2 linked regions of the Homo sapiens genome follow. The protein of the gene in region 1 interacts with the protein of each later gene in a pairwise test. Each region holds a gene or a part of one and is shown in the gene's direction. Other genes may lie near its edges.

Region 1 (3,398 bases):
TACATAATGCCTATTGCCTACAAGATAAAGTTCAAAATCCTAAGTGTAGGATACTAAGCACAGTACAAATTCTTCATACTGTGGCACTAACCCACCTTTCCGTCTTCATTCCAACAGATTCAGAACCTATGCTTCAACCAGGCAACACTTTTTGTCATACCATGGGGGCCCTGTGGCATTTTGTTTCAATGGCTGAAATCTCCTTCCTATTTATTTCTATCTGCTCAGCTCCTTTTCACCCTTCAAGATCCAAACAGATGTTCTCTTTTTGTGAAGGGCTTCCTAAGTTTTCTAGGAGAAGTCTGTGGCTTCTACCTCTAAATTCTCATATCATAACCTGGAAAATCTAAATGTACAATCCTTTGTTATTGTTTGCTGGTTTACTTCTCTGTGTCTGTCTTCTTCTCTATGACCCCTGTAAGGGCAGGAGCCTATTGCGACTTTTTGCATGATGCCCAACATACAACAGGTGTTCAATCAATGAGCATTTTATATGTAAATTCTAATTTTGATATGTAAATATCTAAGAGAGATGTAAATTCTAGCATAGGAATCCAAAACTGCAAAATCATTCCAATAAGAAAATGGCTAAAAAGAAAGCAGTTTCATGCTAAGCATTTTTTTAATCCAACATCTTGTTGATTTGCATCTCATTTGGCTTCTGATTCCTCTGCATTGTGCAATTTTCTACTTTAGAACTTGAGCCATCTTATCTGAAAAAATGGGTCAAGAAAATATGTACATGTTTTTAAGCCTTTCTAAGTAAGCCATTTCTAAAGGTTTTACCAGTTTAGTATTTTTCATATTCTAAAGTAATTCTAAATCATCATACTAAATTTTCTACCTTTATCTACTTTTAAAACTTTATTTTTAGAGTTTTAGTGGTTTAGATGAAACTCGGAAATGTCTCTATTCTGGACCACAGAGCCTGGAAGTAAGACAGGGGTGTTCAATGTTTTGGCTTCCCTGGGCCACATTGAAAGAAGAATTGTCTTGGGCCACACATAAAATACACTAACACTAATGACAGCTGATGAGCAAAAAAAGAAAAAAAATCACAAAAAAATCTCATAATGTTTTAAGAAAGTTTATGAATTTGTGTTGTGCTGCATTCAATGCCTTTCTGGGCCACAGGTTGAACAAGCTTGCTGTAAGATGTTGCTAAATCTCCCCAAGTATGTTTCATAAAGCACTGACCTATAGAGCTAATCTCTGAAAACAAACAAAAAGCAGTCCATGGTCAAGTAAGTTTGGAGAAAAATATATGCTATATCTCTGTATTGAAAAGTCATAGAGCATTTTAGCACATTAAAGGCTCCGAGAGGCCCAACAATGAAGAATTCAGCATTTCCCAAACTTACTTACCAGAAAACACTTTCAAGTCCCTTGGAACCAGTGTTCATGGAACTCAGTCTGGTAAATACTGCATCATTTAGCTTCTGAATGGCCCAATACAACCAGCCTTTTGGTTATAAATAATCTCCATTTATAACACAGTTGGATGGAGCTTAAAGGACACCCATCTTTGTCACCCATGAAGGTCTTCATTCCCACCTGCATGTTCTTACCAAGTTATTGTTCAGAGCATATTTGAAAGGAATGCAGAACAAACGATTTGTTATAGCTCTGTTTGAAAGTGCCTCTTTACACAAAACCAAAATCTATTTCTCTATAGATTCTATCCATTCATCTTCATTCAGTTTATTGGAGCCACAAATAATAAATCTAAAATGTTATATCACTTTTTCAGCCTGAGGGCCTAAAGGATCACATAGAACCTGTAGTCACTGGTAGAACAGCAAACAAAAAGCTTACTTGTCCTCTTCATCTGAAAAGTAAACAAAAGAAGTGGGAAACGTTTGCAGATGCCTGGCATACCGAGCCATTATTAGTGAGGGTATAATGATTAGAAGATAATGGCCCGGTACCTTTGAAGACTGGAATGAAGATTTCTGTGTAGTGACACACTGGCAATGTGAATAGTCCTAATTTGACAACAAAACAACCTAAATCTCTTTTATGAGGTGAGCAGTGTATCTTAGGTAATAAACACTTAAGTAATTAGGCATTTTTTATGGAAATAACTATAAACTGAAACATGGGGGAAAAACCCTCAGTAATAGGCTGACGCCCAGGGAGATGGGTATATAAGAGCCAGAGCAGAAGAGAGGAGCATCGAGACACCAACAGACTTCTCTCAACTCAACAAAAACCCACCTCCCATTGCCATGTATTGCTGTGCTCTCCGCTCCTGCAGCGTCCCCACCGGCCCTGCCACCACCTTCTGCTCATTTGATAAAAGCTGCCGCTGTGGAGTCTGCCTACCCAGCACCTGCCCACATGAGATCAGCCTCCTTCAGCCCATCTGCTGTGACACCTGCCCCCCACCCTGCTGCAAGCCTGATACCTATGTGCCAACTTGCTGGCTGCTCAACAACTGTCACCCGACTCCCGGACTGAGTGGGATCAACCTGACCACCTATGTTCAGCCTGGCTGTGAGAGTCCCTGTGAGCCCCGCTGTTAACCAGCCGAGTCTGCACAGGTTCCGTGAGGTGGCTGCCCAATGTCCTCTGCACCATCTGGGCTTCAGCACTCACTACTGCCTACATCAAGGCTAAGGCCATCCCAATCCCCGGGGCCAAGTCTTGATGAATCTTCTTAATTATTTGCACATTTGGGTACCATTGGAGACCTCCCTTCTGTCTTTTAGGCTATTTCATCACTCTTTGAGAAATAACCATTTTGACCATTTGTTAATAAACTTTATTCTGGCTTAGCAAATATGACCTTGTGATTATTTATTTTCATGTCTCCCATTAGGGAAAGTGGAATGCCTACCTAAACCTGAACAGTAGGTTATCACACTATCCAAGATTTACCCCAACAGAATAAGAGCTCTCATAGTGGAATTTATCGAAAAAATAGATACTGGTTATTTGTGATAAGTTAAAAAGTAAAAAATGTGGTAGTTCATTTTATAGAAGCTTTTTATTTAACAGATATTTATTTAATAGATATTATTGGAAGACATCCACTGTGCAAGCACTATGCTAGAGTCTAGAGATTAACAGAATGTTTTAAAAATACTTGATTTTAGTTTCCATTGATTCTGACATTGATTTTTCTTTCTTCCTTAATTGACTAAATGAATTGATCACTGTGCTGGTGTGTATAAATAATTTGATTATCCTAGTCCTCACAGTCATCTGAAATTCTGAGCTCAAAATGCAAAGCAATTTTGAGAAGTGTATATATCCATTTCTTCATATATGCTGTCTTCCAAAACAATCCATTTTTAATTAATGTTAGCATTTATCGAGTATTCATTGATTCCTCAAATGGGGCTTACATTGGTTTACATTAGTCATGACTATGATTAGAAGTTTGCTAGTCTAAG
Region 2 (3,754 bases), on another chromosome or scaffold:
AGATCAAGAGTTTGAGACCAGCCTGGCCAACATGGTGAAACACCATCTCTACTAAAAATACAAAAGTTAGCTGGGTGTGGTGCTGCACGCCTGTAATCCCAGCTACTCAGGAGGCTGAGGCATGACAATCACTTGAACCTGAGAAGTGGAGGTTGCAGTGAGCCGAGATCACACCACTGCACTCCATCCTGGGCAGTGAAGTAAGACTCTGTCTCCAAAAATAAATAAATAAAAAAAATAAAATTATGTCCCTTTCTTACTAGAGGGGCATGGGGAATCCCACTCACAGGGATTCCCCCAAATGAGTTCCCGGACATATCACATAATTGCTCCTGATTCTTTCCAGCCAGGAGGCTTTCAACCCAAAACACCCATCCTGCCCCATTTCTAAAGAGAGCAGGGAACCAGTGTTAACTAAGATTTTTGTGTGTTTACAGTATATGATTATGCCCATTTTACACATGAGAAAAGCAGATTCTTGGAGAAGTCAAGATGGTCAAAGCTTTTTTTTTTTTTTTTTTTTTTGAGTTGGAGTCTTGCTCTGTTGTCCAGGCTAGAGTGCAGTGGTGTGATCTTTGGCTCACTGCAACTTCTGTCTCTCAGGTTCGAGCAATTCTCCTGCCTCAGCCTCCCAAGTAGCCGGGATTACAGGCACCCGCCACCATGCCTGGCTAATTTTAGTATTTTTAGTAGAGACGGGGTTTCACCATATTGGTCAGGCTGGTCTCTCTGCCAGGCTGGTCTCGAACTCCTGACCTCGTGATCCGCCCGCCTCGGCCTCCCAAAGTGCTGGGATTACTGGCCTGAGCCACCACGCCTGGCCTTTGTCAAAGGTTCTTACCTTGTAAGTGGCTGAGTTAGAATTTCAGCTGTATTACAAGTTGCTGGGCCCAAAACTCATAGAATATTGACATATTTTATCAGTTATAAAATGCCTCCATGTACAAGCACTGCTAGGGGAGGTAATTAGCTCTGTGTGGAGAGGGGTTTACACACAGTATAGGTTGAATACCAGCTTGTTGGGATGTTTTAGAGGAGATTCAGACATTAGCCAGTTGTTGGATGACATGGGGTTTAAGGTCTTTTCCAACTTTTTGATGTCATCATCAGTATTTTGTTCAAATTTAAAAGACACATAGAATGTTCTCTAATCTTGATTAAACAATTATTTTATTTCAGTGAAGAAAATATTTGGAAGCTCTGTGAATACATCAAAAACCATGACCAGTATCCTTTAGAAGAATGTTATGCTGTCTTCATATCTAATGAGAGGAAGATGGTAAGTTGGTGAGTGATTGCAGAAAGAAAACAAGAGATTTAGGATGACATTAGAAGCTAAATTAAAAAAAAAAAAGCTAAATATAGCATGGGTGTAGTACTCTTCTGAAGTGTGCTTTATTAAATACAGCAACATTTAAAAGCTTGCTTTTGAATGAGATTTTTTTCCTTACAAGGCACGATTGAGTTAGAAGAGTTGAGTCCCTTCTGTCGCCCAGGCTGGAGTGCAGTGGCGTGATTCTTGGCTCACTGCAACCTCCACCTCCCGGGTTCAAGCGATTCTCCTGCCTCAGCCTCCCAAGTAGCTGAGACTACAGGCATGTGCCACCACGCCCAGCTAATTTTTGTATTTTTTAGTAGAGATGGGGTTTTGCTATGTTGGCCAGGCTGGTCTCGAACTCCTGGCCTCAAGTGATCCTCCCACCTCAGCCCCCCAAAGTGCTGGGAGTACAGGTGTGAGCCACCATGCCCAGCTTAGTCCCTTACTTTAGGTAAGGAAATATGTGATGGTCTACGCAGATAAAGTCCCTTTTCTTTAGGTATCAATGTAGACCTGTTTTTTTTTGTTTGTTTGTTTGTTTTTTCTTTTATTTTTTGGTACGGAGTCTCACTCTGTTGCCCAGGCTATAGCACAATGGTGTGATCTCGGCTCACTGCAACCTCTGCCTCCCAGGTTCAAGTGATTTTTGTGTCTCAGGCTCCCAAGTAGCTGGGACTACAGGTGTCCCACCACGATGGCCGGCTAATTTTTGTATTTTCAGTAGAGACAGGCTTTCTCCATGTTGGCCAGTCTGGTCTCGAACTCCTAACCTCAGGTGACCTGTCTGCCTTGGCCTCCCAATGTGGTGGGATTACCAGCATGAGCCACTGTGCCTGGCCATTTTTTTTTCTTTTTTTAAATTCAAGATGGAAGATGTAGACTTTTTAAAAATTGCTTAGAGACGCATACTCTCAGTTTTAAAGTAAGGATTTGTCTCTGGAGTTTAAATAGAACTACAGTCAACTTACATGAAGAATTAGAAAAAGTAAGCCCTTCATATTTTGTAAAACACATTTGCAGGCATCATCTCATTTGATCCCAATGGAAGCCCTGTGAAGCAGGCAATATTTGGACAAGTTTCTTCATTTTATAGATGAAGAGATTAAGACTTAGGGTGGCCCTATGAATAATTAAATGGGAGAGCAAGATTTGATACCTGCCAGGACTTCTGATTCCTAGTTCAGATCCCTTTTCACTCTCCAAAGACCATCATACAATAACTAGTGCTCTTGAGAGCTTTCATTGTTGGGGATACTTAGAAGGATTTCGATTTCTTCCTCTTCATTCATTCCTTCACCTTGATTTTTGCATGCTTAAAAATATTTTATTTCTCATGTATGTATTGCTTTAAATAGTAGTAGCCAGGTACAGTGACACGTGCCTGTAGTCCCAGCTACTTGTGAGGCGGCTGAGGCGGGCAGATCTCTTGAAGCCAAGAGTTCAAGGCTGCAGTATACTATGATGGCACCTGTGAGTAGCCACTGCACTCCAGCCAGGGCAGCATCACAAGATCCTGTCTTGGCCAGGTGCGGTGGCTCACGCCTATAATCCCAGCACTTTGGGAGGCTGAGGTGGGCAGATCACTTGAGATCAGGAGTTCGAGACCAGCCTGGCCAACATGATGAAACCTTGTGTCAAAACCCTTCATCAAAAAATAAAAATAAAAAATTAGCTGGGTGTGGTGGCACACGCCTGTAATCCCAGCTACTTGGGAAACTGAGGCAGGAGAATTGCTTGAACCCGGGAGGTGGAGGTTGCAGTAAGCCCAGATTGTGCCACTGCACTCCAGCCTGGGTGACAGAGCAGGACTCTGTCTCAAAAAAAAAAAAAAAAAATCCCGTCTCAAAAAAAAAAAAAGGAAAATAATTTAGTAGTGGTTTAACTAAAGGTATGGCTTACGAAATGTATTGTATTTTGTAGATACCTATCTGGAAACAACAGGCGAGACCTGGAGATGGACCTGTGATCTGGGTAAGACAGTTAATACAGAGAGTATTGACGCATTATGACTTGTAACCCCTTAGTGTTCTGTATGTTTTGGTAAAGCAGAAGTGACCTAAGCAGTAGAGAAAGGCTATGGTAATTATTAATAAATTGACCTTTTGAGAATAGATGTTATTTGATCTAAGGTAGAAACACTGTAGGCATATTTTCTTTTAACTTTTTGTTTTGAAATTATTATAGGAATGATTTTAAATGGTGGATATATTTGTGATCTAGACTCTTACCATTTAGCACAGGAAGGAACTTTGGCTACACATTAGAATTATCTGGAGACTGTTAAAAATGTAGTTTTCGGCTGGGCGCGGTGGCTCACACCTGTAATCCCAGCAGTTTGGGAGGCCAAGGTGGACGGATCACTTGAGGCCAGGAGTTCAAGACCAGCTTGGCCAACATGGCGAAACACCATCTCTAATAATAATACAAATATTAGGC

Evidence for each region. The genes of interacting proteins can lie anywhere in the genome.
Region 2: the proteins of KRTAP3-1 (region 1) and NTAQ1 interact in binary tests that used the Homo sapiens proteins (3 or more experiments, as listed by UniProt).

Annotation. Positions count from the first base shown.
Region 1 is NC_000017.11:41,007,905-41,011,302, reverse strand, and holds KRTAP3-1 (keratin-associated protein 3-1), read left to right. Parts: upstream 1-2,174; 5' UTR 2,175-2,228; coding exon 2,229-2,525; 3' UTR 2,526-2,782; downstream 2,783-3,398. UniProt on the Homo sapiens protein: In the hair cortex, hair keratin intermediate filaments are embedded in an interfilamentous matrix, consisting of hair keratin-associated proteins (KRTAP), which are essential for the formation of a rigid and resistant hair shaft through their extensive disulfide bond cross-linking with abundant cysteine residues of hair keratins.
Region 2 is NC_000008.11:123,426,745-123,430,498, forward strand, and holds part of NTAQ1 (protein N-terminal glutamine amidohydrolase), read left to right. Parts: intron 1-1,179; coding exon 1,180-1,279; intron 1,280-3,238; coding exon 3,239-3,289; intron 3,290-3,754. UniProt on the Homo sapiens protein: Mediates the side-chain deamidation of N-terminal glutamine residues to glutamate, an important step in N-end rule pathway of protein degradation.